Regions from separate parts of the Homo sapiens genome. Here regions 1 and 3 are each linked to region 2. Evidence: fine-mapped expression QTL. A gene starts in region 2. Each other region holds a variant in brackets. All regions are shown on one strand. Distances are from middle to middle. Region 1 overlaps SCML4 (Scm polycomb group protein like 4). Region 2 holds the start of SCML4 (Scm polycomb group protein like 4). Region 3 overlaps SCML4 (Scm polycomb group protein like 4).

Region 1 (10,294 bases), 92 kb after region 2:
TCATTACATGGACCCATCCATTTAGTCAGTTGGCAGATAGTGCTGAGCTCCCCTGTTGGTAATGCAGCGAGGCGCACAGGGCCCAGGTCACTTGTTTAGAGCCACACACACAGCAAGATAGCAGCAGGGAGGAAACCGAGAGCAGGTCTTCTCATCCCCGGCCCTTTGCTTTTCCTCTCCAAGTTTTTCCTTATTCCAAGTTTTTCTGCTGTCTGTAAGGCCCGTTATCCAGCACTGGCTGCGTGGGGTGTGCATCCCTGTTTCTCAGCTCAGAGGGCTGACTGCACACAATAGATGTCCACAAGGGGCTTGTGGTACACCTGTGTTGCTTCTAGCAAAGATGTGAAAGAACAGAACAAACCCCAGCCCTCATTTAGCAAAATCAAGGAGGAAACTACACTCTAGGAAGATCAATTCTCTTCTCCTCCTGGGTTTCCTGCCTTTCCCACACGGGATGTTTTCCCCGTGTCCTTGTGTTCTGGCTACATCGGGGCTGGATGACAACCACGGGGCAGGCACAGCCCATCATTCCAGCTGCCAGGGAACTTCCTCATTTCTACAAAACCCACACAAGTAGCCTACTCCACCAGACAGTGGCAGAGTTTGATCTAGTGTTTGAATTAATATGTGGAATGATGGGTAGAAAAAGAAAAGAAATAAAGGGGGAGTTCTTGATTAATGGGTATAGAGTTTCAGTTTTACAAGACGAGTTATGGAGATAGATGCTGATGATGGTTATGCAACATTTTGAATGTATTTAATATCACTGAGCTGTATGCTTAGAAATGGTAAAGATGATAATTTTTTTTTTTTTTTTTGAGACAAGGTCTTGCTCCATCATCTAGGCTGGAGTGCAGTGGCGTGATCTCGGCTCACAGCAACCTCCACCTCCAGGGTTCAAGTGATTCTCCTGCCTTAGCCTCCCAAGTAGCTGGGATTACAGGAGCCTGCCACCATGCCTGGCTAATTTTTGTATTTTTAATAGAGATGGAGTTTTGCCATGTTGGTCAGGGTGGTCTCGAACTCCTCAGCTCAAGTAATTCACCTGCCTCAGCCTCCCAAAGTGCTGGGATTACAGGAGTGAGCCACTGTGTCGGGCCATGACTTTATGTGATATGTGTTTTACCACAATAAAAAAAACTTGAAGAAAAAAAAACAGAACTGGAATCCCCCCGCCCTCAAAAACAGAAAGAAAGGAAAGGAATGAAGAGAGGTGCGTTCCTGCAGATGCCTTTGCACCTGCTTGTGTCCCAGTGCAGGCCACATGACTGGAACATTGTGGAGCTGTGTTTGTCACAGCCAAGGGCCACATGGACAAATGAGCTGTCTCATTCTCAAGCTGAGCATTGGAAAGGAGGTCATTTGGAAGGAGAATAAACTATTGACAAGCTCTGGTCTTAAGAATCCTTGCAGAAGGTTTTGATGAAAAGGTTGAAAAAGAGGCTGAGCTCGGTGGCTCACGCCTGTAATCCCAGCACTTTGGGAGGCCGAGGTGGGTGGACTGCTTGAGGCCAGGAGTTTGAAACCAGCCTGGCCAACATGGTGAAACCGTGTCTCTACTAAAAATACAAAACTTAGCCAGGTGTGGTGGTGGATGCCTGTAATCACAGTTACTCGGGAGGCTGAGGGAGGAGAATTTCTTGAACCCAGGAGGTGGAGGTTGCTGTGAGCTGAGATTGTGCCACTGCATTCCAGCCTAGGTGACAGAGCATGATTCCTTCTCAAAAACCACAACAATAACAACAACAACAACAAAAAGAAACTAAAAAGTGTCCATCAGTTTTGTAGAAAATACAAAAGCCTTCATATTTTTCCTGACACTTAGGGCCATAGAGGCCAAGCTAGAACCCTTACACCATGGAATAGGGAGTGTTCTCCAGGGTAGGAGTCCTCATCCTAATTCTCCCCATGTGCCTATGTAAATTCATTTAGGAAAAGCTTTATATTTTCAGTGATATCTTTCATTAAATTATGATATCTGTACATATTTTAAAATATTGAACTAAAAGGGAAAAATGTAATCTCTTTTTTAAAGAAGGTGCCTCCAGAGAAAAGCCTGCATTTCGTAGAATTTAAAATGGATTCTCTATTATGTCCAGCAGTTGATTGGATCCCTTTGCATTGTAAGGCTCAGGTTCTCTCTCATGTCCTGTAGATACCGAGGAAGTTATTTACTCCATAACTATTAACCAATGAATGAATGTTCCAATTAAGTTGTTTTAATCGCCCAAGGTATCTTCAATATGAACTAGAGTAATATTGAGTCACGTTGACCCCTTTGATAAAATTTTGGTAGAAAGTAACTGTATTCAAACAAACAAACAAAAGAAGTGAACACTCTTCTTGTCTAAATCACAATTTATTTTGTGGATTAAAGATGCCAGCACCTGAGACTTGAGGAGTAGAATGATGCTGGTGGTAAACCCCTTGCAGGCTTTCTACTGTTTGGGGGTGTGGAGGAGATAAAAAGCCTGAAAAAAAGAGGCCAAATGGACTCCTTCTTCCTAGAAGGCTGACCCCAGGAATCCTCTGAAAGACACCCCTACCTCTACCCTATGCCCACTCCTCAAATAACAAAATCTACTGGAAATCTCCTGTGTTCCATGAGGCGAACAGTCCCTCATGTGGCGCCCCCACTCCTCGATTCTCCGTGAGCCATTAGAGCTGGCCAGATGGCCGGGGGTCTCCCAGCCTCTCTATCAAATAGTTGTGTCTGTGTCCACTGCAGAAGATGTTCTGTTTCTGATGAGCCTGTCCAAAGAGGCTCCTGCCTCTGACAGAAGAGTAGGTCCGGGAGATGGGCCAGGCATCTAAGTAGATCCAAGGGGTTGGAAACCAAGTTCTCTGATTATACCTCAGAACAGTGGAAGCACAAGGACTGGTGGAAACAAAGGGACAGGGTATGTGAGATGCAGCCATTCGAGGCCTCCAGGACCTGCACAGGTTGTATTAGAGACCCCTTCTGGTTATTCCCCTGGACCACAACCCTGAGCCCCTGTGGCGGACCCTAAGGTACTGCTATCTGCAGGCTACTCACACCATTATCTGTTGTCCATGCTTGAGAACTAGGGTTAGAATGGCAAACCATGCCAAGAGGAGCTGAAGCAGCTTAGGAAACCAGTAGGCTTCTAAGATGAACTTCATGAACTCTCTCCTAATAGTGGTGCTTTCTGTGTTTCATTCATAAGCAACAAACCCTTTGCTGAAAAAAACTACAACAAACAAACATAAACTCCCTGGCAGAGAAGTGGGCAGATACTCTGTACCAGATCTATCCTAGCTACTGCTGAGTTAATAATGACAACTTCCAATCTGGACATGCAGAATCAAGAGGAATGAAACGGCTTCCTTTCTTCTGTCCACAATAGTTATCTTTTGCTGTGTCATAAATTACCCCCAACACTTAGGGGCTTAAAATAACATTTAGGGTCTCACAGCTTCTGTGGGTCAGGGGACCAGGTGCAGCCACAGGCCTTCTGGTTCTGAATCTCTCACAAGGCTGCATCTCAAACCTCAACTAGGGCAGGACCCACTTTTCCAGCTTTTTCACATGGTTGTCAGCAGGACTGAGTTTCCAATGAGCTGTTGGTTTGTTGCCAGATGGGTCCCTTTGCAGAGCATCTCACAGCACAGCAACTTGCTCCACCAGAGTGAGCAATGCTAGGAGTGCTGTGAACCTCTCTCAAAGTCGAGATGTCCATTTAGAAAGGAAACTTACAAGGCGTCCTCTATTCCAGGAACTTCAGCATTTTCCTGATTAAGGACCACTTTTAATTTCCCCAAGGTTCTATGAAAGACCAAAAAATTGTGGGGGCTGTGGAGGAAACAGCGTGACCACAGGATGTCCCACCCACTTCGCCTCCCCCAGCTCTCGGGAATTCTCATAAGCTTGGCGTGGAGGTTTGGCAAAGCTGCGAGATCATATGGAGGGTGGTATGGAACCTGCTCTCCTCCCGAGAGCACAGAAAGGCCATTCATTATCCCAAACAGATGACTTTGGTCAAAAATGCCTTTGGTCAAAATTTCCAAAGGAGGAAATCAACCCCTAGGCTTAGAACAAAGTCTTAGGCAAACCAGAAACATCTGAGAGGATGTAAGAAGTTCAGGTGTCAGGCATTAAAATTATGGTCGGTTGCTGTGCATCTCATTAGGGGAGAAAAAATAGAAATGTACTTAAATGGACCAGAGGGGAGTCATAAGGTTGATTCTCAGGGCTGAGTGATCTGAACTGCAGAGACAACCTTAGAGAGAAAATCCATACTGGCCAGAGACCAAGTTAATGGAAAATTTAATTGAAGCAAATGAAATGCTCAGCCTCATAGGTAGTATGGCCCTGTGCCCTTTGAACCAGAAAGGCTGGGCCAGGAGGCCACAGAGGGCCCTAAGGGAAAACTCCCTTATCTGCAAGAACAAGGGGCGGGACTGAGTTTGAGAAAAGAAAATCTGCAAACCTCCA[C/T]AGGAGCCTCAGTGAAAGGCTGCATGCAGGGGAGGAAACCTTCAGGTTTTGGTCACCAGGAAGTCCGTTAGAGATTCACAGCAGAAGGCCCCTCTGCATCCCACAGCACCAAGCACGTGCTGGAAACCGGCGGTCCCCCAGAGGACAGTGGGAGAGGCTGCCGGGTGGCAGAGACACAACCACCAAGGTAGGCACCGAAGCACCTGTGTCTGGGCTCTGAGTAAAAGAGGTGCAGCTGGCACGAGCACCTGCTACTGCTTCCTGCGCCTTCTCCCTCCTGCCCCTCTCCTCGCAGGTCTCCTTTTCCTGTACTATCTAGGTGATGGCACCTGGCTAAGCAAAGAGGGGTAGCTGCTCCACAGCTCTACAAATCTGCGAACTGCACTCCTGCCTTTTCTAATCTGGGTTTCAGGGCTAGGAATCTCTGATGTTGCCATCTCTGTCAGCAAGCCGAACCAAACTGTTCACACACGGAGGCCACAGGACACTGACCATTGCCTGGGCAGGGTGTGGGGGTCGGCAGGGCTGGGCAGACCGGCAAAGGGGTCAGGCAATCAATCCTGAGCAAGGCCAGGGCTCCCAGTCTGGAGGAAGGTGGTCGTGCTGATTGTGGAAAGGGCTCACTCTGCAGCTGCTCCCTCAACTGGGAAGACTGATGCGGGAAGTGGGGGGTGAGAGAGAGAGAGAAAGACAAACAGGCAGAACTGTTTAGAGATGACAAATAGTGTCTAAGACTAGATGTTGTGGTTCTTATTGCCTTAATAGGTATTATGTGAGAATAATTTTGCATAGTGGAATTGTTGTGTTTCAGGACTTCATTTGGTTAGTGAATCCAGGTAAAATGCCAGTTTAGTTTTTAAAAATAAAATCAATAGTCCGAGCCCACTGGGCTGTAAGCAGTTAAGCCTTGTGTCCTAAGTGAGGAGAGCTGACACTTGGTCAGGAGCATCTATAGTTTTATACATAAGGTCCGTTTTCCCCTCCCTGCCGCTCTGTTTTGGGACTTTCTCTTTCTCTCTCTGGCTCGTGGCTTTCTCCTGCACCTCTTCCTCTTTCTGCTTCTCTCTTTGGAGGTTCTCTACATTTCAGGGGCTCACACCTGACCCTCCAGGACTGTAGCAGAAATGGGCTGCACCTGGGTGTCCTGGAAGCCATGGATGCAGGGGCATTACCTAACCCTATCTCCACCCCAGGCTTCAGCAAGGATCAGGGAGCAAGGGAGGAATCCACACACTCTGGACTCAGAACCCTGAAGCTTTGATCCCTAAACCGGAAGGCTTAGGCACAGTTCAGGTTCATATGCAAACAGGTATGCCTTGAGGCTTGAGTGGGTTTACATGCTTCTAGAGTGTTCTTTGGCCTCACTAATAGGCAGGCTTTATACACAGTGGCTGGAGGGAACCATAGTCCACAAGCAGGTTTAGCGATGGTGAAAAAGGACCATCAGTCTGTCCTGAAAGCTCCCAGGACGCCAAACCTTGAAAATGTGGCAGATTTCTTTGATGGGGCCACGTGTGTGTTTTCCTTTCTATTTAAGCATGCTCTCGTGACTGTGCAAAAGGCAGATCATTCTTTTTTTCTGGAGGAAAAGATTTAATGATTCTTAAATGGCAACATTAGTCTCTTGGCTGGATGCAGAGGGTTACAGAAGTGAGTAAAAAGCCACTCATTTACCTTGCTTTGTTAAGCTGGCATTCTCCACTGCAATTAAATGGCCTCACACAGGCTGGGTTGGAGCCTCTTGTTGATGAGCAGTGCCAGGGTGACAAGACAGCTTCTTTCAGATGGAAAACGATTTTGTATGGACACAGGAGGAAATTTCGACCATGAGTGCCTTCGCCTGTGAGCCCTACGGTCTGCCGGGACTCTGTGTGCAGGAGTTAGATCCTCCAACAGGTCGGCTGGCCCCATCTGGTGTTTGCTCACCAGTCAGCCACAAAAGCGCTTGAAAAGTGGGGGTTCCCTCTCCAGATACAGACTTGGTCCTTTCTTTTTACTGACTTTAAATATTGGATTTAGGTAAGAAACATATGTCACAGTTCAATTAAATTCTTAAGCTCCTAGTAGTTCTGCATACCTAGAATTCATCTGCCTCATGTTGGATGTTGAGGTGACCTAACATGTTGGATAGTGTAAAGGGTACATGTCCAGCAGTCATGTGTTTTAACTGAAGCAAGAAGAATTGAGGCTAGATGTAAGGAGGAACTTTTAGGCAATGAGATTCATAGCACAATGGCCTCACTCTAAAGGAGATTGTAAAATCTCTTTGGGGAAGCTTTCAAATAAAAGACTCAGTTATCTACCATAGTTTCTTTTCTAGACAACACCCTGCCTGAAGAGATAGGTTGGGGCTAGCTCAATGCATTCCAAATATTAATTTACCACCTTCACAATTTCTACTGTGTCTGAGTAACACTTATAGAACTGTCTACTCAAGATATTCCTTTACATTAACTCATGTCTTTTAATCTTAGCCATTAGTCAGCTTAAGCAATCATACTGTATCAGTGAAATCATTTTGTTTGATGTGCTAATTATATGTCGTGGATGTACATTGAAATACATGACAATAAAAAAACATTTACTGGTTGTCGTAGGCTGAATCGTGTATGTTCAAATTCTCGGGTATCTGGAACCCTTTTTGGAAATGGGATCTTATTTGGAAATAGGATCTTTGCAGATGTAATCAAGTGAAAGGGAAGTCATACTGAATTAGGGCTCTAATCCCATGACTGGTGTCCTTAGAAGAAGAAGGAAATTTGGACACAGATCGTGACACACAGAGAAAACACCACAGTGGAGGCAGAGATTGGAGCGCTGTCTCCAGCCAAGGAACTCCAAAGATTGTTGGCCACCAGGGGATGCTAGAAAGAGGCCAGGAGGGATTCTCCCCTAGAGTCCTGAGAGGGAGCCTGGCCCTGTGGACACCTTGATTTCAGACTGGTAGGCTCCAGAACTATGGCAGAATAAATTTCTGTCGTTTTAAACCACCCGGTTTGTTAGTTTCTGCAATCCTAGGAAATGAATATACCCATGTGGTTCCCTGTCCCGCCAGTGGAAAGCATTTAACATTTGGGGAAATGCTGGGCTGGGTGCTTGTGAAGGTCCTTTTCCTTCCTGCCACCGAATGATGAGGGCCATCCATGCATCTGTCACTTTTACGCTTAGCTATGATGTATCAGAACCCCTCTATAGAAAAGTGCGGAAAATGCAGTTTCAATCGGGTTTGAACAGATCCATTTCATCAATTCTGGAAGCCACCACAGTGTGTGCATCTGAACGTGCTGTTCACTCGCGGCCACCCAGGAGCCACTTTACAGAGCCACATCTGGGGCTTGGTTGATTTGTCTTGACAGTTGTCCACCTGGGCAGACTTTGGAACCACCAGCACATCCTTTGCCTGGGTAGAAGGTATTGCTTGATGCCCTCCGAAGCCTATTTTCCCTTCTGATAATTCATTTGGATCACAGCCCAGAGGTTAGCTTTTATTACCTTTGATCTCACCCACGGGCATCAGTAGTTTCTTTCTTTATAATTATTTATTTATTTTTGAGACAGAGTTTTGCTCTTGTTGCCCAGGCTGAAGTGCAGTGATGCAACCTCAGCTCACTGCAACCTCCACCTCCTGGGTTCAAGCAATTCTCCTGCCTCAGCCTCCTGAGTAGCTGGGATTACAGGCGACTGCCTCCACGCTTGGCTAATTTTGTATTTTTAGTAGAGACGGGTTTCACCATGTTGGCCAGGCTGGTCTTGAACTCCCAACCTCAGGTGATCCGCCCACCTTCGCCTCCCAAAGTGCTGGGATTACAGGCATGAGCCACGGTGCCTGGCCGCTGTCAACAGTTTTGAAATCCATTCAGTGCATGTTCCCTTGTTCCCCATTCCCACACTTTGCGATAAGGGAATGATCTGCCATCTGCGTCTGTATTTTCCAACTATAGTGCCAGTCAGTGAATTATCTGCATTCTCTACCTTAGACTATCAGAACTATGTAGGCATATTTAATTTAGACTTAAAGTGTTCAATAAGCAGTGTACTGTTTTTGTTAAATCTTTTTTCATTGTTTATCACAAATCTACCTAAAGAATTTATATATAAGCTCTTTATAATATCAATTTTAATGAGTCTTCTGTGTAACGGCAGCCTTACAGCTAACATTGGCTCAAATGTTTACTCAATAAATATTTATCAAGCACTTCCTCTATTCCAGGCATCATGCCAGATACTGCATGTAGCTTCCTCACATATACCAAAGCACCTGACATGTGGGACACAAAAAGGATTGGTATCCCAGACTATGAGAACTTTCCAACAAAAGGAATGTAATGGCAGCCTTACTGCTTACTGGCTTTAGATCGTAGATAGTAGATAGTAGATGTTCAATACACGTGAGTTTTCCTTTCCCTCACTCCATTCAGAAAGCAGCCTAGTATATAGCTCCATAGCCAGGTCCTTTTTAGAATCTCCCTTCCGAAGGCTTCTGACCCAGAGGGAAGAGATGCAGCGAGGCCATCAAGGCAAAGATGTAGCGTTCCAGGGTCCTGAAGACATCTCGCAGCACTTCATTGGCTGCATAGCATTCGGCACAGAGCATGCAGACCCTTTGGCTGCTTAGGTTATGTGTGTCCTGGTGGCCAACGCCGTGTTTGTTACACTTGACTGCACGTAATTCTTGAGAATATGTTCATAGCCTCATCTGAAAAGCACTGAACTTCTGCAAACGCCTTTTAAAAAAAAACTTTATTGAGATATAATTCATATATCATACAATTCACCATTTAAGGTACCATTCAGTGACTTTTAGTATATAGATATGCGCAGCTATCAGCACAGTCAATTGTAGAATACTTTCATCACCTCAAAGAAACCTCCCACATACCCTTTAGCTATTACCCACCCCACACCCCAACCCCAATCCCTAAGCAACCACGAATCTACTTTTTGTCTGTATAGATTTGCCTTTCCTGGACATTTTATATAAAAAGAATCATTTGACATGTGGTCTCTTGTGGCTGGATTCTTTTACTTTGCATAATGTTTCAAGGATCATTCACACTGTAACAGATATCAGTACTTCATTCCTTTTTATGGACAAATAATATTTTGTTGTATGGATATAACAGATTCTTAAATTTTATTCATTCGTTGATAGCCACTTGAGTTTCTTCCACTTTTTAGCTATTATGAATAGGGCTGCTGTAAACATTCATGTACAGATTTTTATGTAGACATTTGTTTTCATTTCTTTTTAGTACATACCTAGGAGTATAATTGCTGGTTCTTATGGTAATTCTACTTTAAGCATTTGAGGAAGTACCAGGCTGTTTCCCAAAGTGGCTGCACCATTTTCTATTCCTACCAGCAGGGTGTGGGGGTTCTAATTTCTCTATGGTATCACCAACACTTGTTATCTGACTCTTTGATTATCACCTTCCTAGTGGGTGTGAAGTGGTGACTCATTGTGGTTTTGATTTGATTCGACTCATGATGTGGATCAGCTTTGATGTGCCTACTGGCCATTTGTATATCTTTTTAAAGAAATGTTTATTCAAGTCCTTTATCCATTTTAAAATCGGGTTGTCTTTTTATTGAGCTAGAATAATTCTTTTTTTTTTTTTTTTTTTTTTTGAGATGGAGTCTCGGTCTGTTGCCCGGGCTGGAGTGCAGTGGCACGATCTCAGCTCACTGCAAGCTCCACCTCCCGGGTTCACGCCATTCTCCTGCCTCAGCCTCCCGAGTAGCTGGGACTACAGGCACCTGCCACCATGCCCGGCTAATTTTTTGTATTTTTAGTAGAGATGGGGTTTCACCGTGTTAGCCAGGATGGTCTTGATCTCC
Region 2 (10,294 bases):
AAAGCGTCATCCTGTTTCAGCAGACCGATGTTTTGAGTTAGAGATAAAGCAGTTCTTAGGCTTGTGAAATGTCAGAGCCATAAGTGACCACAAAGATGATCTAGTCCCTTATTTCCTTGTCCCGTGTTATAGAAAGTCAATGATTTCACCCATGTCATTGGGTTAGTGGTAGGGCTGGAACAAGTGGCAGTGCCAGGATCCATGAGGTGGAATGATTAATTAGAGTATCTTTGGGCACAGACTGCCTGGGTCAGACCTGTGTCTACCACTTCTAAGCTGTGTGTCCTTGGGCAAGTTATTTAACATCCCTAAGTCTCAGTTTCCTTATCTGTAAGATGGGAATGGTATCATAATACCTACTTCATAGGATTGTCATAAATGGGATACAAAATGGGAAGGGCTTCACACATAATTCTTCAGTAAATGTTAGCTATCACTGTTATAACAAAGGTTGTTTCGGCGGTAGCACTGACTGCCAGTCCAAGACAGAATCCTCTCGATCGGATGCTTGTGTTGGAAAACACAACTCTTTAGGACAAAGGCCATTTTCAATGTGAACGGTGTCTTTACCAGCAGCTGACAGAAGGATTACTCTTCAAATGGAGGCTACTCTAAGTAGATTTGCATTTGGGACGCCCCCAAATTAACTTGCTCCCTCTGGTTGCCTCCTGCTAACCACCAGCCCAGTAGCACTCGTGTGGAGAGAGTGGAACATGCTGCTTGTGGTCTGAGACAGAAATGTAACCACAGTGCAAAGAAAATTAACAACGTGGCACAACCTAAGCACCCTTTTCATGGGACAGGGATGTACAAGACTTAGAGAGATGCTAGCTCAGAGCGGTCACTTTTCTTCTTAGCAGGTCCCTCAGCTAATACCAGTCATCCCATCAAATTTCTTTTTTCTTACATGTTTAACTTAAATTTTTCTTGGAATTAAAAACATTTAGGATTTTTTAAAATATTGATTTAAGTTATTAAAAGCTATGTTCCTGGTTGCATGAAGAAAGAAATCCCAGTAAGTTTAAATATATATATTTTAATAAATGTGTGTATATACAGATATATTTAAATAAAAAAATTTAAGTAAAAAATATAAAGATATATTTAAATAAAAATATACATTTAAGTAAAAAACAAATATATATTTAAATAAAAATGTAAATATATATTTAAATAAAAATGTAAATATATTTAAATAAAAATATAAAGATATATTTAAATAAATATATTTACATATTTATTAAATTTATTAAATTACATAATTTAATGAATAATTTATTAAATATCAAATATTTTGAATAACATATTTAAGTAAATAAATATTGTTTACTTAAATATATACATATATATAAAAAATATATATATTTTTTGAGACGGAGTCTCGCTCTGTCGCCCAGGCTGTAGTGCAGTGGCGTGATCTCGGCTCACTGCAAGCTCCGCCTCCCGGGTTCACACCATTCTCCTGCCTCAGCCTCCCAAGTAGCTGGGACTACAGGCGCCTGCCACCACTCCCAGCTAATTTTTTGTATTTTTAGTAGAGACGGGGTTTCACCGTGTTAGCCAGGATGGTCTCGATCTCCTGACCTTGTGATCTGCCCACCTCAGCCTCCCAAAGTGCTGGGATTACAGGCGTGAGCCACCGCGCCCAAGCAATCCAGCTTTTGTTGATTTCAATTTTAGGCTTTATTACCAAGTTGACCTGTTAGATGACAATGGGTGCTTCCCACATGCACCCACCTTGAGGACAAGGACAACAGTAGCCCATCTGGGAGGAGGCAAGGAGGTTGGGCCTGAGGATCAGAGTGAGAAACCCTCACAGAGCTGGGTAGGAAAACCAGCAACTCCTTTCTTATGGGTAGATTCTGCCAACCCTTTTACTTCTTTTACAGGACTTGGAGATTATTTCTGATTACTTAAGAAATGTTATTTTTTTTAATCCTAAGAAACATTTTAGAGTGAAAATTGGTCTAATGTCTCAGCCCATTCCAGGTGCTTTAAGCTCAGTGTAGTGTGGCATGTGTGAGGCCACGGGTGTGAGTATAATAACCGCTGTCGCTGGGACAGAGATGCTGTCCAAACTTAAATCATCCATCTTCTTTCCTTTTCTTTCCTTTTCTTTTCTTCTTTTTCTTTTCTTTCTTTTCTTTTCTTTTCTTCTTTTCTTTTTCTTTCTTTTTTCTTTTTTTTTGAGATGGAATTTCACTCTTGTCACCCAAGCTGGAGTGCAATGGCGTGATCTCAGCTCACTGCAACCTCTCCCTCCCAGGTTCAAGCGATTCTCCTGCCTCAGCCTCCCGAGTAGCTGGGATTACAGGCAAGCGCCACCAAGCCTGGCTAATTTTTGTATTTTTAGTAGAGATGGGGTTTCACCATGTTGGCCAGTCTGGTCTCGAACTCCTAACCTCAAGTCCAGGAGTCCCAAAATGCTGGGATTACAGGCATGAGCCACCACACCTAGCCCATCCATCTTATTTTCTTTTTTTTTTTTTTTTTTTTGAGATGGAGTCTCGCTCTGTCACCCAGGCTGGAGTGCAGTGGCACGGTATCGGCTCACTGTGAGCTCCGCCTCCCGGGTTCACGCCATTCTCCCTCCTCAGCCTCCCAAGTAGCTGGGACTACAGGCGCCCGCCACCACGCCCAGCTAATTTTTTGTATTTTTAGTAGAGACGGGGTTTCACCATTCACAGGATGGTCTCGATCTCCTGACCTCGTGATCCACCCGCCTTGGCCTCCCAAAGTGCTGGGATTACAGGCATGAGCCACTGCACCTGGCCCATCCATCTTATTTTCTTTTCTTCTCCTCTTCCTCCTTCTTTAGTGAAATCAACTTATATGAAATGAAAATGCAAACTACCAAACCTGCCTTTTCCCATACAAAACAACAAAATTTGATGATTAAATGAACTAAAGTAGTGAATTTCTTCTTGCTCAATTAATTACAAGGCTTTGACTTAAAACAATTTTTTATATTTTCATAATAAATTTCAGAGGAGAGATTTCTTATGTACTTCTAATGTGACTCTACACATATATTTAGAGAAACCTCAAGTTGTCCATTGCAGTTTTTTTCACTCTCAGTAACTGGCCAGGTTGTGGCCTAAGCCTTCGTTAGCCCTGGTTGATATTTAGTCCCGGCTAAATTTGTTTGCTGCTCATCCCTAGGAGTAAGCCACATGTTTGTAGAATGGATGTTTCATCTTGTAGGAAATACCTGTGAATATGCCAATATCCCAGAGTGGATGAAATGGGCAATGGGGAGCCCTGCTCCACTTTACAAAAAGAAAGGAAAAGAAAAGATCCCTTCGCCGATATATATTGATTTGCTGCAGAAAATGCAATGGGGCATGGGAATGAATAGTCACTCTTGCCCTGTTTCTATCCTGTGCAGGTCCCACCACGTTGAGGTGGGTAGAGATGCTTACACACACACACATACAGGCCTGGAGCCAAAGTCAGGGCCGGCTTTAATGAACTGTACACATATGTTGTGGGCAGCCGCTGATTTAATATGTACAACCATGGTGTGTGCACACACCTGGATAGGCACACTGCTCTGGGAATCACACAGGGTCTCCTGAACAATGATGCTATTGTAATATTTCTTTTTGTTTTATTTGTCCAAAGTCAAACATTCACTCTGTCAGATCACCAGTGTCTTATAAGCCTGGTGTTGGCCCACACTGCTGCAGGATTGGGACAAAGAGACGATGTTACAGTCTGGTTTCTATGGCAACAGAGGAGGGGTAATGAAAACTGAAATGTTGGAAACACCCATTCTAACCATTGTGACATAATTCAGGTTATTACAAGGATGTAACTACCAAAGAAGCAGAAGTGTCATTACCTTGCAGCTCATGTCGACAAAAAGCTACACTGCACATTTCTCTTAGGCTGCTAAGAGGAAGGAAACACAAAACACACACACACACACACACACACACACACACACACACACACACACACACACACAGAGGCCTCGTTTTCTGCATGTAAAATGTGTGTGTTCTTTAAAAGCCAGTGGTTGGCTGGTTTTCCGGACATGATGTGGTTGAAGCTGTCATCGTAATGGAAATTCATTGCTGTAGCTATGGTAAATCGAGTTTTCTGCCTGTGCTGAATGCATTAGTCTAATGAGATGTTTGCAGCTGGAGCGCAGGGCTGCTGGAGACTAACTGTGAGCTACTAACACGGGTGGAAGATAGCTTTTGCAATACTCGGTTTGCATGTGCTGAAAGTCATCTGTCTTCTGAGTCAACACTCCCGACCTGGTAAACAACCTGCTCAGGGCTCTGGTGAACAAGCTGTAGGTAAGGGAGATGCACAATTGGAGGCGTGCCGTTGACACGGGATCTTTCTCTTGTAACTGTCAGCATGACAGGTTACCTGTTTCAGTTTTTTCTGGGTTGCATGCCTACCTCTATGGCAACGCACAAGAGTGTCCTGCACTAAAACCACTGAGTCCAGTAGGTAAACTTTAGTTCCTCATATGCAAAGTACAGCATTTAATTTATTAACCAGATCTCAGAGGGGAAAATGTAACATTGAATTATATAGTTTATAAATTTGGGCTATATACATGTTCATTACTCTTTAACTCTGCATTTAAATACCTAGAAAGTTATTTTTTTCCAAATGTGAACTCAAGTAACCGGTTAGTTATTTTTTCCCTTCACGATAATTTTGCTTTGTTTTGCTTTTTAATTTTAAAAAAATTGTACTATGTCTTGGGATAAAAATATTTACCTAAAATTTGGTTATTAAAATTGGTATGTTATGAACATGTAAAAGTGTTTTTTTTCCCATTTAATTTTATTTCAAATATCCCAGGTAGAATATTTCACATGTCTTTGTGCTGGTTTTTCCTAATTTATGAGGCATAAATAAGAATAATATTTACTGCTAGTTTCTGGTTTTAATTCGTTTTTTGGGAAAAAAACTGGTGACTATGGAGTATTAGCGGCAGTTTTCCCAAGCTCAAAATCACCTCCTTCCCAGGTGGAGCACTGTGACTTGAACCAGCTTCCACGTGCTCCTCCCAAAGCATGAGGGGTCCTCTCCAGGTTGATTGCTGGCTGGACAGGAGCGGTGGATGAGGCCAGGGTGCAGGCTGCTGAGCTGTTTTGCTGAGTTGAGGTGCTTGAGTCAAAGTTCTTTCCACTATCTGTGATCGTGAACGAGAGGTGTCTCCTCGTGTTGTCTCTAGATTCCATGACGGTACTCATGAGGGTTAGACAATCAGTGGCTTTCTGAGAAAGTGGTTTTTTACTGATCTCAGACACTACAGTACTTGAGAAAGTAATCCAGGCACTTCAGAATCAGGGTATTTGTTATATGCTGTTTTTCTTTCTTTTCAACCAGAGGAACCATTTTTGAAGAATGAGGGATATAGCTGCTTTTTTTCTCCACTTTTTTTTTTTTAAAGCAAAATAGAATATCTGGAGTGAAAGCATAAAAATAACTACAAAGGAATTCTTAGTGTGTTAAACTATCTGGGGGGTATAATATTTGTGTGGAGCATTTTTTGTGTTGCTTGGTAGAACTAGTCTGATAAAATGAGGGGCTGTTTGAGCAACAGCAGCTGGGTGAAGATTACCTAGAAAATCGGTACTGCGTGATCGTCTAAACTCAAAAGGTTAATGTAGAATCTTCAGTTTTAGGGAAATTGGTGGCTTCACAAACTATAACTTTTAAACAGGCTTTTTGACAGAATTTTTAAAAAATATGAATGTGTTTTCTTTAGCTCTTTAAATTGTGTACGTAGATGAGCTCTGAAATATTTTGGTAAATTCATCAGTTTGCTTCATTTGTGGAATTATAACAAAAGTGCAAAGCCCACAAAAATCCAGTTCTTTCATGTATAACATGTTTACATTTCTTCCCTGTGTCCCCAAAATTACTTTTATTTTGCTGCAAAAAAAAAAAAAGAAAAGAAAAAAAGAAAAGAGTAAATGAACGGTAATAGAAAGACAAGAAAACAATAAGCGAAACGAGTAAGTTGCTTTTCATCATTTCTTTGCTTTTGGTGGTGTGTTTTCGAGGCGAGGGAAATCAGCAGAAGCAGTTTCACTTTCTGGTTCTTGACTCCTGGGGGTGAGGGTGAAAGGCTGTCTCCTCTAGCAAGCAGCAGGTAAGCTAAGCAGCTCAGCCCACAGAAAACAAGCCAGACCCAAATACTGTCACTTGCTGCAAGAACTTTTATAATGAGAGTTCAAAACAATATTGACTTTAAAAAAATACTCAGTAACACTTTCCTATTAAAAAATTCAAGCACTACCCCAAAGTACAAAGATAGACTTTTTTAATTTTTAAAATTTGAAATGATGAGAAAATCATCTCTGCTGTTTATGTATTTTTAATCTCAATTTTGGATCTCAAATACTTCAATACTTTTAAGGAAACATAACTGAAGTTCCCTGAAATCATAACAAGGAATGCTCGGAGAGGAATAACCTTTCTGGGAGTCTGGGGGCTTAAATGTTAGAGTGCTTCGTAGGTCTGTTTACAATTTTGTGTGGCCTGAGGACACATCACACATGTGTCCACACATCCTTTATGACACGCACCTTAAAGAACTTTTGGTCCAGGCAGAGGTGGTGGCTGGAGCTTGAAAGCCCTCACAGGGGCCCTGTTAGGGATCTGCAGGACAATTTTCCTCCCCAAGTCCCTGCCCTCGGAAACCTCAATATCACATGGGTAGATGCCAGGGAGCCGGGATGTGCCCATCCCACTCCACAAGTCCTGAAGAGCGTGGCAGGTGACACTACCCCTCATTGGGCTGGGAGCCTTAGGATACCAAGCATCTCCAGTGTCATTCTTCCCCTGAGCCCTCAGATTTTATGTGGGGATGGAATGGGAAAGAAGGGAAAGGAGATGAGAAAAGACCCTCTTTTAATCTGATTATCATGGAGCGTAAAATCTTGTCTAACATTTTGTGGATGAAGTTTGTGAAAGCAGTTGCCTTTGGTGTGATCACACAAGCTTCTTTCTTTTGGTGGGCACATCTGATGTTTCTAAGAAGGAACTTTTAAACAATGCCTCCCTAGACATCTTATTTCTTAATTCTGCCATCTCTCAAAAGGCTAGTTTTAGATTTACACATTTTTTAATGTTTTCATTGCCTTCAAAAGCAGACAGGTGAGGAGAGAAGAGGGGGATTAAATCAGCCCCTGGGAGAGACATTAAACGGCTTGGTACAGATATCATATAACAGAAGCCACCAGGGTATCTAGTAAATTACTCTAAATTTTAATTAATGAGTCACAAAAGCCACACCACAAGCTTTAAAAATTACCCTTTTATCAATAAGGTGATAATTAACTTTCTCTGGAATTAGCAGTTCTCTCAGCCCCGGGGCAGTACACAGCCTAGTAAGTTCTCTGGAATGCTGCCAATTTTTAACAATTGGTCTTTTGGCAAACCTACTGGATTTTAATTCAAACATCTATTGTGACATTTTCCAACGTGGTCCACAGACCATTAGGATCACCCAAATCGTGGTAAAATTTCTGAGGTCAAAAGAGCAGCTTGGAATGTTTGAATCGCATTTGAATATGTCACTTTCTCCTTCTTCTTCTTTTTTTTCTTTTCTACCTTTCCCCACCCCAAACTTCTGCATTTGCAAGAGCGCAGTGCTCCAGTCTGCTGTAAATCTCTACTAGAGTCTCTGCTGTAAATCGCTGTGGGGAACCCTGCATTTGTTGATACGCCCATACCAAGTCCGAACGCCCTGGCTGCCAGCCCGTGGGTTCTAAGCGTTTTTCATTGTTGCACTCGTCTTGGTTTCAATTCTGGCAAGGGCTCACTCCTTCATGTTTTTGCAAACTCTCACCCGTGGTTTGTCAAATGCTGATCTTTAGTTTGAGACTTGAAGAAGTGCTTTGGGCAAGAGGGCCATTTTGGACATGCTTACAGAGGCTTGGAATTTAGCTTCCTCTGATCTGCATATATTAATGTCTGAAGAGGCACAGACAGGAGCATTCAGCATTGCAGAGCAGCCTGCCCCACAACAGCCCTTCTCAGACATGCATACGCACACGCACACACAAACACACACCCCTCCCAGTGCGGCTGGTCACTGGTGGGTGGCATTCAGGGACAGCCTCAGGAGGGACACTGCTATTTGGGTATAGCATCTGGAGGGCAAGTGGTGATGGATGCAGATCATCCCTTCAAAAGTCAGCCTCCTCTCTTCCCTCTGGATCTTTCAAATGTTAGCATTGCTGGGCTCCTGCTTCTCTCAGCCAAGAGACGTGGCCAGGGCTGAATACCGGTGACAAGGCTTCCTGCTGGGTTAAGCAGGCAGTTCTGACACAGACAAGAACATCCCTGCCTTCAGGCGGATGGGGTGGAGACCAGCAGCAAGCTGCAATTGTGCATTCTGGAATAAATCAGCACTTAGCAATCAGGAGAAGCCCTTTGCTGCCGCGGAGGAGATAAAACACCTCTTACTTCTTGGGATGATTATTTCTTGGGCTACTATTTTAGGACAGAAAGGAATTTATTACCCAGTGGCAGTTCTCACTTTGCATTAAGCTGAAAAGTCATTCCACTCAGTCCATTTGACACTCTGAAGTAATGGGAGTAGATTTTGATATCCACATTGCATATTTCCCGGGGTGACTATTACTATACCAGTTTTACTAGTTGTGTTTTAGTCCAGTGATAAGAAACCATATAAACTCCTCTTACTCTGCCACTAACTTAGACACATGCTACCTAAATTTTCATTTGTGGGGAGGCAGATGTGCTTTTTTTTTTTTTTTTTTTGGCAGTTGCATTTTTTGATCAGATAAATGCAACCCACCATTGCTGATTTTCAAGAATGATTGCACATTCCTGCAGCCAGGCTGTCTTAGCCTTTTGAGAAATTGGCTGGGCTGAGGAGGTCTTACTTTCTCCAGAAAACATGCAAGACAGAAGCAGAGGAGTGGAGCAGGCTGTTATGAGAAAATTAGTATGCCAGGAAAAAATAGTGTCAACACTGTGCTTTGAAAGGTGGTGATGTTGTCTGCTTAGCCCCGCGATGGTGACTCAACTTTGGGGAGCTGAATATTTGGTAACCAAAGCCCTTGCCCTTTTCCTCTCCCTGTGCTGATCATTATAGAGAAGCCCTCATTGTTTCAAAACAGAAACATATGGCCTGAAAGTAATCCTAAAGACATGTGCAGGCTCCCATAAAGATGAATACTCAACTTGGCTGGGTCTAAATCCAGCCAGGGGAAAGTGGTATGGAGCAAAGAGGCAGTAGGATAAAACAAAGAGAAGGGAGCCTGTTCCTTCTCCCTTCCAACCGAGCACTAGACCTTCACTCTCCCTCTTGTACCCCCGGTGCAGTTCAGAAAGGATTCAGTAATAGCTATGAGTACCATACAGCTGTCAGCTCATAGACCATAGGGGCCTTTTCTTTTGAACTGAAGAAAATATTTTCTCTTCTCCCGTCCTCTTTTGTCCACAGGTCATCCTGGGACATCATTGCTCTGATGAGAAAACCAGGGTTGAACACTAAGGAGTATGTTTTTCCCTGGTGTCTAGAGCCAGGGCCTGCCCCTCTCACCAGGCCCATGAAACACTTGGAGCTGCCATGTCTAAGGCCCTGCCTTAGATGCAGACTTCAAGTCGGCCAGGGGCTGGCCTCAGGATTTTAATCCTGTTTTGACAAGCAGTCTGCCTTGGTGAATGAGGAAAGGAAGAACCGAAGAGAAAAACACAAGGCGAAAGCCTATTCCAGGGCATTCATGCTTTTGGTTTTGGAGACAGGATTTGGAGGTCATGTAACTTAATTCCTTTGGGCCTAACCATTTCTGAGTGATTATAGGACTGTAAGAATCATTCTCATTCTTTGTGGCCTTCCAAAGAAGAGGCTGACCTCTTTCCTTCACAGTTCTTTAGGATTTAGTGCCCTCATTATTGGGAAATTTTGGTGATGTCAAGGCTTTATCAAACAATTAGCTATTAAGACATGCTGTTGATTCCAAAGAGAATAATCACAAATGTTGCACAATGCATTGGGTTTATTGATCAGTAATGAATTCCACTGGGGGAATAGATTTCTGTTATTTTTTCAGTCGTGAGGAATCTGTGGTCATTTGTTGGATTCAAGCAAGATTTGGTTCATGCTGTTGCCACTGTGGCCTGTGCTGGGGGAGTTTGCCTTGAGACTTAGGAGTCAACCCAGCAGCCATCTGCGCACTGCCCCTTTTATTGGGAATTTTCCCTTTCAGATGCCAAAGGTGCCCGAGCATATTCGACTATATCACTTTTAAGACCTCATTTGCAAAAAAACTTCAAGTGGAAA
Region 3 (10,294 bases), 110 kb after region 2:
ATTGTGACTCTTGCTTGATCTCTCCCAGGAGTCCTGAGCCAGGTGAGGGGGGCTGTGCTGGTGGGTGAGCAAGAGCAGGGAGTACAGGGAGATTCTGAGAAGCCAGCAGAGACTGTGAGGGCAGAGCCACTGCAGAAGAAAGTCTTTGATCTTACTCTTTTTTTTTTTCTTTTTTTGAGATGGAGTTTTGCTCTGCAACCTCTGCCTCCCGGGTTCAAGCGATTCTCCTGCCTCAGCCTCCTGAGTAGCTGGGATTACAGGTGCCTGCCACCACATCCGGCTAATTTTTTGTATTTTTAGTAGAGATGGAGTTTCATCATGTTGGCCAGGCTGGTCTTGAACTCCAGACCTCAGGTGATCCACCTGCCTTGGCCTCCCAAAGTTCAGGGATTACAGACGGGAGCCACTGCACCTGGCCTGATTTGGGCTTATTAAGTCATCAATGGCCAAAATATCAATTTTCCTCTAAGCACCGAGGAGCACACCTCCTAATTCCTATTACAATATGCTCCTGTGGGCAAAGCAGCTCTCAGCCTGCTGACAGGTATGCTATTTGGAATTATGTTGTGAGGTTCATTTCTCCTCTCTGCATGCTCACAAATACTGGCTACTGTGTTGGCAGGGCAGGGTTTGCCAAGACGGAGGGTCTGATAGCTTCCTGAACTGCTCTCTGATATCTGCTTCTCTGTACTGCCTTATTGCTTAGTCAAGACAGTCACCACCGAAGAGTACCTGGTGAACCCTGTGGGCATGAACCGCTACAGCGTGGACACCTCCGCCTCCACCTTTAACCACAGGGGCTCCTTGCACCCCTCCTCCTCGCTGTACTGCAAGAGGCAGAACTCTGGAGACAGCCACCTTGGGGGTGGTCCTGCTGCCACCGCTGGTGGTCCCCGCACTAGCCCCATGTCTTCTGGTGGCCCCTCGGCACCTGGGCTGAGGCCTCCAGCCTCCAGCCCCAAGAGAAACACGACCTCTCTTGAAGGAAACAGATGTGGTAATGTAATGCATGCATCAGCTTCCCACTGACTTAACATCCCTTGCCCTTGCGCGGGGAGCACAGCATCTGGGGAAGGGGGAGTGTGGCTGTTTAAACGTGGGACTGCTGGGAGATCAGAAATTTCCACAAGTCCTTTCATGGATCTTGAGGTTCTCAAAAACAGCCAAACTCAACCTTTGATAAGCAAAGAAAATCGTGTATTAGGGCAGGCTAGGCCACAGGATACGTAGACTCCAAAATGTACACAGGCTCAAATACCATAGAAATTTTTGTTCGAGAGCCAAAGGTGAATGTTCCTGATTCATGGATGCATCTCAATATAGGGACATAGGCTCCATCTATTTTGTGGCTCTGCCACCCTCTACAGCCTTCATGCCCCATGCATTAGGGAATAGAAAGGGAAAGAAGGTGTGGAGAAGACACAGGTGCTTCCCTGCAATCTGAAAGTGATGCTCATCACTTCCACTCACATCTCATTGGCAAAAGCTGGTCATTTTGCCACACTTAACCATAAGGGACTCTGGAAGCTGTAGGTTAGCTCTGCCCAGGAGAAAGGAGAACCAGACCTTGGTAAAGAATTGTCTCTTGCATAGGAAGTGTCACCTTCAGGATACAAATACATGAGCAGAGGCAGAGTTAGGCAAAATTCCCCCAATGCTGGTTGTAATGCCACTTCTGTCTCATCCACTAAAGAAAGCTTGTTGGAATGCAGTCTACAAAAGCGCTATAAGGGCTAAAGGATTATAGTAATAGCTTGAAGGCCCTTCTGATTGATGTTTTAAAAAATCATTTTCAAGCTTCAGTATTTTGATAGTGCCTAAAGGCCATAGAGTATAGTGGATAATCACTGGGACTAGAGCCAGACAGCCTGGGCTGAGATGCTGGATCTGCTGCTTCCTGCCTACCTTTTGCAAGTCTTAACTTACCTGTGCTTCAGTTTCCTCACCTATAAAATTGTGATAATAATAATGGCAGCACCTGCCTCATAGGATTGTTGGGAGGATTAAATGAGTTCATACATGCATTTAGTACAAGACCTAGGAGGTAACAAGAGCTCAATAAATGTTAGTAGTTACAGCATAGATCTTTTTAACACATCCCTTAACAGATCACAGCCCATCAGCTCCACAGCTGAGAACTGCTGAAGAAAGAAGGCCCCAGGCCAAGGAGTCTGGGAGTCTTCATCTTGCCACCCTGTAGCCCCTCAGTGGGCAGGCTCTGTCTTCTGTGGCAAGTCACATTTCTCCCCTGAGCCTAGGATCCTTCCACCAGTGACCCCAGCAAGCCGCACACGTGAGCTATTTTGTATGATTCAAGACCCTCCACACATTCTCTTCCAAGAGCCTCATCCAACCCAGATGAGCGTGGCCCTGACCAGCTTCCCCTGGCCAAGGATGGAGAGGTGAGAAGGGGCCCCTTGCCGGAGAGGCGTTCTGAGGGGTAGAGCGCAGATTCTCCCTCCACAGCAGCTCTTACCAAATGTAGAGATGCCCTGCAGGCCACTTTCCAACACTGTCACACAGGGCCATGAGCCAGGCAGATTAAGTGAGCAGAGCCCTATTTTCCAAAGGAGAGCAACATTGTTCCATTTGATTCCTAAGAACAAGAGAAAGGGACAAGATCTTTCACGAACCAACACTGTAAAGTAAACCAGGGGCAGCCTTGATTTCATAGGTTTGTCCCCAGTGTTAGCTTAATATCTGGCATGTGGTAGGTGTTCAATAAACATGCATCATGTCTGTGCCCTCACGGTGTCCCTTTGTCTTCTTGTCAAAACACTCATCCTTATGTCCCTCTTGAGTTTAAATGTCTTTCTCTCATCCTCTTCTCCTCAGCCCCATTCCCCTTTTCTCAGGGTGGTGATCACAGGACACCATGCTGATTGAATTGACTCATAATCCCAGAGTCCCACTTTTTAAAAAGGAGATATTTACTCTCTCTCCCACTCACGTTGGTGCAATCTCAGCCCTATGTCTTAAATGCAGGATTTCCAGCAGTAAGAGGGAGGCATGATTTGGTTGGAGAGAACTTCTATCACTCACTCAACAACAGTCTGCCCTGTTCAGTCCAACTGGTGACCCAGGGCCAGGGAATCCAGGGCTCTTCAGAGGGCTTCAGCATAGCTCCTGTCCCCCAGCCCCTCACACCTCCTTCCAGTTGAGCCCTAGGATGTCCTCCTGTCCTTCACTTTCATCCCCATACCGGCCCTTTGTTCTCCTGTGTATGAGTCTGTTCTGCTAATAAAGACATACCCGAAACTGGGTAATTTGTAAAGGAAAGACGCTTAATGGACTCACAGTTCCACATGGCTGGGGAGGCCTCACAATCATGGCAGAAGGCAAAGGGAAAGCAAAGGCACGTCTTACATGGTGACAGGTAAGAGGGCTTGTGCAAGGGAACTCCCCTTTATAAGACCATCAGATGTCGTGAGACTTACTGGCTACCACAGGAACAGAATGGGGGAACCAAACCCATGATTCAATTATCTCCAACTGGCTCCATCCTTGACACATGGGGATTATTACAATTCAAGGTGAGATTTGGGTGGGGACACAGAGCTAACTCATATCATCCTGGAATCAGGCCCTGACAGTCTGAGTAATCTTGCCAGACGACTGGCCGAGGGGCAGCCCAGACCCTTCCTCAGCCTCCAGCTCTGAGAAAGCCTCTCTGCTGGAGCCTGGTTGCACCCCAGGAGAGGCCCCCTAGCTCAGGCCCTTCTGCCTGTCAGGATCTGGGATGAGATCAGAGACACGGAGTCCACCTGTGCCTGCTGCCTTTCATCCCAAGAACATCAATACCTGAACCCTGAATCCTGGCTGTCTTTTTAATAACTTAGAAGTATTAGAACCAGCCAGGCACGATGGTTCATGCCTGCAATCCCACCACTTTGGGAGGCCAAGGCGGGTGGATCACTTGAGGTCAGGAGTTTGAGACCAGCCTGACCAACATGGTGAAACCCCGTCTCTACTAAAAATACAAAGATTAGCTGGGTGTCGTGATGCACGCCTGTAATACCAGCTACTTGAGAGGCTGAGGCAAGAGAATCGCTTGAACCCGGGAGGTGGAGGTTGCAGTGAGCAGAGATTGCGCCACTGCACTCCAGCCTGGGCAACAAAGCTAGACTCTGTCTCAAAAAATAAATAAATAAAAATAAATATTAGAGAGAACTTTGCCTGAGACCCTGAAATCCAGTTGTCCATAATCAGCAGGACCCCCACCACGGGACTGTGGGATGTTTAAAATCGCAAAGCCACCTAACCTCTTTGGAGAAAAGCTGCTATGTGATGTATCAGTTGAAGTTCACTGTTGAGCCTTTGTGATACACTGAAGAAAAATGAAATTATTCATCCTTTGTAGGTCTGTTAACACTTTAATTCTCCGAAGATTCCTTTTTTTTTTTTTTTTTGAGACAGAGTCTCGCTCTGTCACCCAGGCTGCAAGCTCTGCCTCTTGGGTTCATGCCATTCTCCTGCCTCAGCCTCCTGAGTAGCTGGGACTACAGGTGCC[T/C]GCCACCACACCTGGCTTTTTTTTTTTTTTTTTTTTTTTTTTTTTTGTATTTTTAGTAGAGACGGGGTTTCACAGTGTTAGCCAGGATGGTCTCGATCTCCTGACCTCGTGATCTGCCTGCCTCGGCCTCCCAAAGTGCTGGGACCACAGGCGTGAGCCACCCCGCCCAGCCGAAAGATTCCTTTTAACCAGTGCCTTCCTCAGGGTGCTAAATAAAACCGCAGGTACCAGAAACAGCCAGTCAGCCATGCACATTCTCAGCAGTGAGACAGAGGAAGTGGGTGGGGAGAAGACGGAAGGAAGGATAGCACCAGTGTCTCTGAAAGAGGTTTCCGTTTCTGCTTACATTTCATTGACCAAAATGTAGTCACATGGCCACTTGCTGCAAGGGATGCTGGGAAATGTGGTTTTCATTCCTAGCAACCATGATTCCAGATGGAAGTTAGGGCTGCTATTACAGAGGAAGAAGTGCAAAGTAACGCTGAGTAGGCAATGGGAAGTCTGATCAGAAATGCTCACTCCCTCCTTTTTCCTCCCATGGCACTTTGTTTCCTCATCTATAGTTCTTACTCTATCCTAGAGAAAGGAACAGACCCTCAGCTTTGTGAAGCCTCTTATTCATATTTGAACCCCCCACAGCCCTGGCAAAGGGGGGCTTGAGGCCTGTATCAGACTGTTATTTATTGAACACCTACACTCAAGGGGGCCAGACAGTTTCCGACTTATTATAAGTTATATGTTTAGGATTTAATATTTATAAAAAGGTATTGGTATATTTGATTTAAAGATAAAGAAAAAGAGGTTCAAGAGAAGGTAAATCAAGTGTTAAGCCAGGATCTGACTTCAGTGGGCTCCAAAGCCTGTCTTTCAAAACAACCCCAGGGGTTTTCAAATCATGCCTGATGGCTTTCAAGGTTCTAAGAGATGGAGAAGATGGAACAAGAGCAGACAGGACTCCAGGTGCCCTCCCTCTCTTTAAGCAGGGCCTTTTCACATTTGCAGAGTGGGGTTCTATATGTGCTTTGCTTAAACAAAATTTGCACAACTAAAAATGTTTGGAAACCATGGAGATAAAAACCATGCTGACTTGAGTGGCAGGATGTTAAAGTGGGAGAGAAACCGCCAGCGTCCTCACCCATTTCTCACCTAGCTGTCAGCCTAGTGCCTGCTGTGGGTCCCCCCACACCCCACCCTCCCACCCAAATGACTGTTCAATATTGCTCTGAAGTTCCATCCCAAGTAAAAAGCAGTTATCATCAAAAAAACCATACCTCTTTAAGGGAGTTTGACCCAAGTCATAAACCATGGAAGAGACTTAGAAATGGCATTTTCCCCATGGTACTAATCAAAATGGTTTAAAACCACAAAAGCCAGAAAACTGCATGAGGCTGCAGGCAGAAGGGTGGGTATTGATGACTTGACAAACTCCTCAGCCTTCTCTCTCTGGCGGTACTTACCTTTAGCTTCCTGCAGTTGTGATATATCACGTCTGTCTCCGCTGCCAGTGGGCTCCAAGGGGATGTGTTCACAGGGCACATTTTCCTGGTGTCTGCTGATGCTCTGGTGAAAGTTTGAGAGCTCTTCCTTGTCTCTCATCCAAGATATAATCACCAAGAGCTATAAAGAGGTTTTGGATAACAAAAGCTTCCTGACTTGGGCATTTAACAAGACACACTGTAGAATTCCCAACCACAACTAGGTCCAAGATTCAGAATCAAGAAACGAAGTCAATCTGATATTGCTATTACAACCCAAATGCCTCCTGTGGTTGGATTTTTATTTGATAGGGCCTGGCATTGGGTGAGGGATGGAGACAATTTAGCTAGAAAAAGAAGAATGAGAACAGCATTGTATGTGAGGAGGTGAAGCGGACAAAAGCATGGCAAGAGCTGATTAATTAAAGAGTTTGTGTAGGGGCCAGACGCAGTGGCTCACACCTGTAATCCCAGCACTTTGAGAGGCAGAGGTGGGCGGATCATCTGAGGTCAGGAGTTCAAGACCAGCCCAGTCAATATGGTGAAACCCCGTCCCTACTAAAAATACAAAAATTAGCTGGGTGTGGCGGCACATGCCTGTAATCCCAGCTACTCGGGAGGCTGAGGCTCGAGAATCGCTTGAACCTGGGAGGTGGAGGTTGCACTGAGCCGAGATCATGCCACTGCACTGCAGCCTGGATGACAAAGCGGGACTTCATCTCAAAAAAAAAAAAAAATAAAGGGTTTGTGCAGGGACACCAGGGAAACCATGCTGGGAGGTTTGGGATCCATTTCAAGCAGATGGGGCTTTGCTCTGTAGTAACTGTAAACCAGACATTTCTGAACAGGGGAGTGAGCTGGTGGCCCTGGGATTTAGGAAAACAAATCTACTGGCCATTTATGGAATGACATCATCATAATAAGAAGAACAGCAACTACCTAATGAGTAATCCTGTTTAATGCTTTACAACATTATGCCATTTAATCCTTGCAACAGCTCAACGAGGTGTTTTATAGAGCAGGCAGTTAAGACTCAGGTTTTGGTTGGTCCTAGCCAGCAGAGACTTCCTGGGCACAGTGTGCCAGGGGCTCTTCTCACATCTGAGGACAGAGCTGTGAACAAGATGGACACCGGCCCTGTTCTCTGAGGGTTTGCAACTCCAGGGAGACAAATGTCAACAAATTATTACACTAATTTCATTACAATTGTGATGATTGCTGTCAGGGAGAAGTGTGGATGCTGTGGGAGAATCAGATGGGGAGGGAGTGGCTGAGCCTACCCTTCGGAGTCTGGAAAGGCTTCCCAGAGAAGGGGCAGTGGAGCTGGCTGGAATAAGCAGGAGGAAAGACAACCAGGGAGGGTCAGTAGGGAGGAGGGATGGCTGGAGGCTTCCCAGCAGAGGTAACAGTGCTTGCTAGGAGGTCACAGTGTCTTCTGGTGGCCAAGAAGGAATCTCGCTCAGCTCAGCTTGACTTCAAGCCCATGGTCTCTCCTTGTTTCTAGAGACATGCTCTCTCCTCACACAGGCAGGCCAGCTGGTCTCAAATAATTGAAAAGAAAAATCTGATTAAACTCTAAGGATTGAGTGGGCTCTCTTCCCTCTCATCTCTCTCACCACATGGCATCTTGAAAACTCTGGATAGAGTGAGTGATGCTTGCCTATAATCCCAGCTACTCGGGAGGCTGAGGCAGGAGAATCACTTGAACCTGGGAGGCGGAGGTTGCAGTGAGCCGAGATCACCCCACTGCACTCCAGCCTGGGCAACAGATAGAAATAATGAAAAACAGCACTGTTTCAAGCCATGTGATTTTGCCATAATCGTGGGCTAATCTGGGCATGTCACACATTTGATATGGCATTGTATCTAGAAAGGATGCATCTAGTGGGAGCAGGTCACTTGGAGATGCTGAGAACAGATCTCCCTCCCCTTCCCCTTGCCAGCCCCGGTCCTCCCAACCCAGTTCCAGGTGCCAGAAACCAAGAGGGCCTGGGCAGCTCACAGGCAGCCTGAGGACACAGGGGTCCCTGTCGGAGACAATGACCTTCCTGTCTTTAAGATTCTTATGGTCAGGCTCCAGCCCTGAGACACATTCTCTTGATTCTTAAAATATTCTTAAGAAGCAGCAAATAATATTCACAATTTATAGATGAAGACAATGAGGTCCGTAGAGAATGATCAGAGCCCAGGAGGGACGGGAAGCCTGGCTGTGGCTGCACTCGGTGTGTTTTGCATGTGGACACACTGATGCAGCCTTCAGCTGTGGGAGGAAGTGACTCCCTTAGTGGGAACAGCCTGAGGTGGGAGGGGTTACACAGTGTCATAAGGGGCTGGCAGGGGCTTAGAGATCAAGCCCTTTTATTTTACAACAGAGAAGCAGAGAGTCGATCACATGGCTGGTGGGTGGCAGGGGTTTCTGACTCCCAGCTCACTGCTAATTCCGCTCCTCCACATGACTCTGTTGTTAGCTAAAGAGTTTCTCCTGAATTATGAATGAGTGAAAGGAAATTATGTACGTATGGATGTGCTCATGGGCATGTGTAAGGCAGAGGGAGATTCACAGAGAGTGTGCAAGTACCTGTGCTGTGAGAATCAGGATTGCTTTGAAACACTGACTCATAGTCATCCTAGCTCTGGTAAATGTGAGTTCAGCTTTAGAAACAAGCATATTTAATCCATTCATAACTAGGTTTCACTTTTCACATGCCTCTGGCAGGGAATGACAAGACCAAGCACGATGTCCTCATTGGAGAACTCTGCCTGCTCACAAAGGTGTCTGGCCAGTGCTTCTTGGCATGCTCTGTCTGCTTAGGAGCAAGACTTTTCCACATCCATCATGTCTTACTGTTGATCTATCACATCTGCCTGCTGCAGCTGCACCAGGCTCCACCCATCTGTCTTCCTGACACCTTCGCTGCAGCTGGAGAGGGAGTGGCTAGTGTATTTATTATTTTTGTGAGCACAGACCACTGTGAGGCTCTGCAAACCTGCCACTGGAAAGCTCCATTTTTCTTCCTTTCTAAAGCGAATCTATGTGCTTTGGATCAGGAGCAGCTCCCGAGGTGTGACTTAGGCTGCCTGCTGCCCTCTGTCTTGTATGACTAAAAGGCCCCCTAAGAAACACGCCCGAGCCAGGCCCCTGCTGCCTCTGCTCCATCCTGGAAAAGTGAAAAGTGCCCACAGCAAGCCCTAGGTACCAGGAACAGAGCCCACTTTGCCATCTCAGTTATCTCTTTCCCTCCACAGCAATCGTCCTGAGAGCCTCCTCCTTAAAGACAAACCAGCCACCTGGCTCAGCCCTTCAACACTGTAGTTGAAGGGAAAGTGTTTCCCTGACCTAGCTCAAAGGACTCTAGGTTCCTGTGAATGATGCTGTTAATTGGTCTGGGTTTTCCCCCCTTCCTGTCAAATGCAGGAAATTAGATTTGACCTCTGCTCTGATCACTCTAAAATTATTCTTGGCACTAAAGACTTCCAGCCTTTGTAATCAGAGCATCTATTTTCACCCTGATTAACGCCAATGTTCTGATGGGGCAGGATCCAAAGGCAATGTGATTTCCGTGATTCCTCGTCCCCATGTTGAGTGCAGATGTCTTTAAATGGAGTGAAATCATCTTTAATAAGTGTGGATCGGCATTCAGATGGCTCCAGGGTGCATTAACAGATTCCCAGAAAAATGCCCCGTGCCAAACCACCTTATGGGACCCTTCCAGGTCCCACAAGGAAGAGGCAGGGAAGATCTCAAAGTCAATCCAATTCTCAGCCAAACCATTATGTGTTTAGGACAGACGCAGAAATGTGATGCTGTATTCTCCTCAGTGCTAATGGAGCAGCATGCACGTCTCAGGCACATTAAAAGGAGGAAGGAGACAGAGACAGCAGAAAGCCACTGTGCCCCGAGATCTAAAGAAGGGAAATAAAGTGAAGGCTTCTCAACTTCTAACTAGAATTCTTCTGTAGGAAAGCCGCTTCATTGTTCAGAGCCTTGTCTTTTTTCTAGCCTTAAAATAGAAGTAAAGATTACACACACAGGCTTTTGTATAAGTTACCGAGACTGTGTCTGCAGAGTATATTGATTCATCTCACATTTATCAAGTCCTATTTATAAACACAGTCATGCATCACTCAATGGGATACATTCTGGGAAATGCATCCTTAGGTCATTTCAATGTTGTGTGAAAATCATAGGTTGTACTTGCACAAACCTAGATGGTATAGTCTACTACACACCTAGGCGGTGTGGTACAGCCTATTGCTTTTAGGCTACAAACCTGTACAGCATGTTACTGTACTGAATACTGGAGAAAAT

The links. PIP is the estimated chance that this variant, and not a neighbour inherited with it, causes the effect.
Region 1: its variant is fine-mapped to the expression of SCML4 in whole blood (TOPMed, PIP above 0.99).
Region 3: its variant is fine-mapped to the expression of SCML4 in whole blood (INTERVAL, PIP 0.97).

What each region holds. Positions count from the first base shown.
Region 1 is chr6:107,726,323-107,736,616 of GRCh38, reverse strand. The region is part of intron 5 of SCML4 (Scm polycomb group protein like 4); the gene reads left to right. Among named protein-coding and RNA genes, the nearest start is that of SCML4, 93 kb to the left of the region's middle. The variant C/T (reference allele first, on the strand shown) is at 4,457.
Region 2 is chr6:107,818,139-107,828,432 of GRCh38, reverse strand. SCML4 (Scm polycomb group protein like 4) reads left to right here and starts at 4,120. Exons shown (of 8, transcript NM_198081.5): 1 at 4,120-4,307. RefSeq lists an enhancer at 5,968-6,037.
Region 3 is chr6:107,711,406-107,721,699 of GRCh38, reverse strand. It overlaps SCML4 (Scm polycomb group protein like 4), which reads left to right. Exons shown (of 8, transcript NM_198081.5): 6 at 707-997. Among named protein-coding and RNA genes, the nearest start is that of SCML4, 110 kb to the left of the region's middle. RefSeq lists silencers at 4,775-4,924, 8,191-8,300. The variant T/C (reference allele first, on the strand shown) is at 4,511.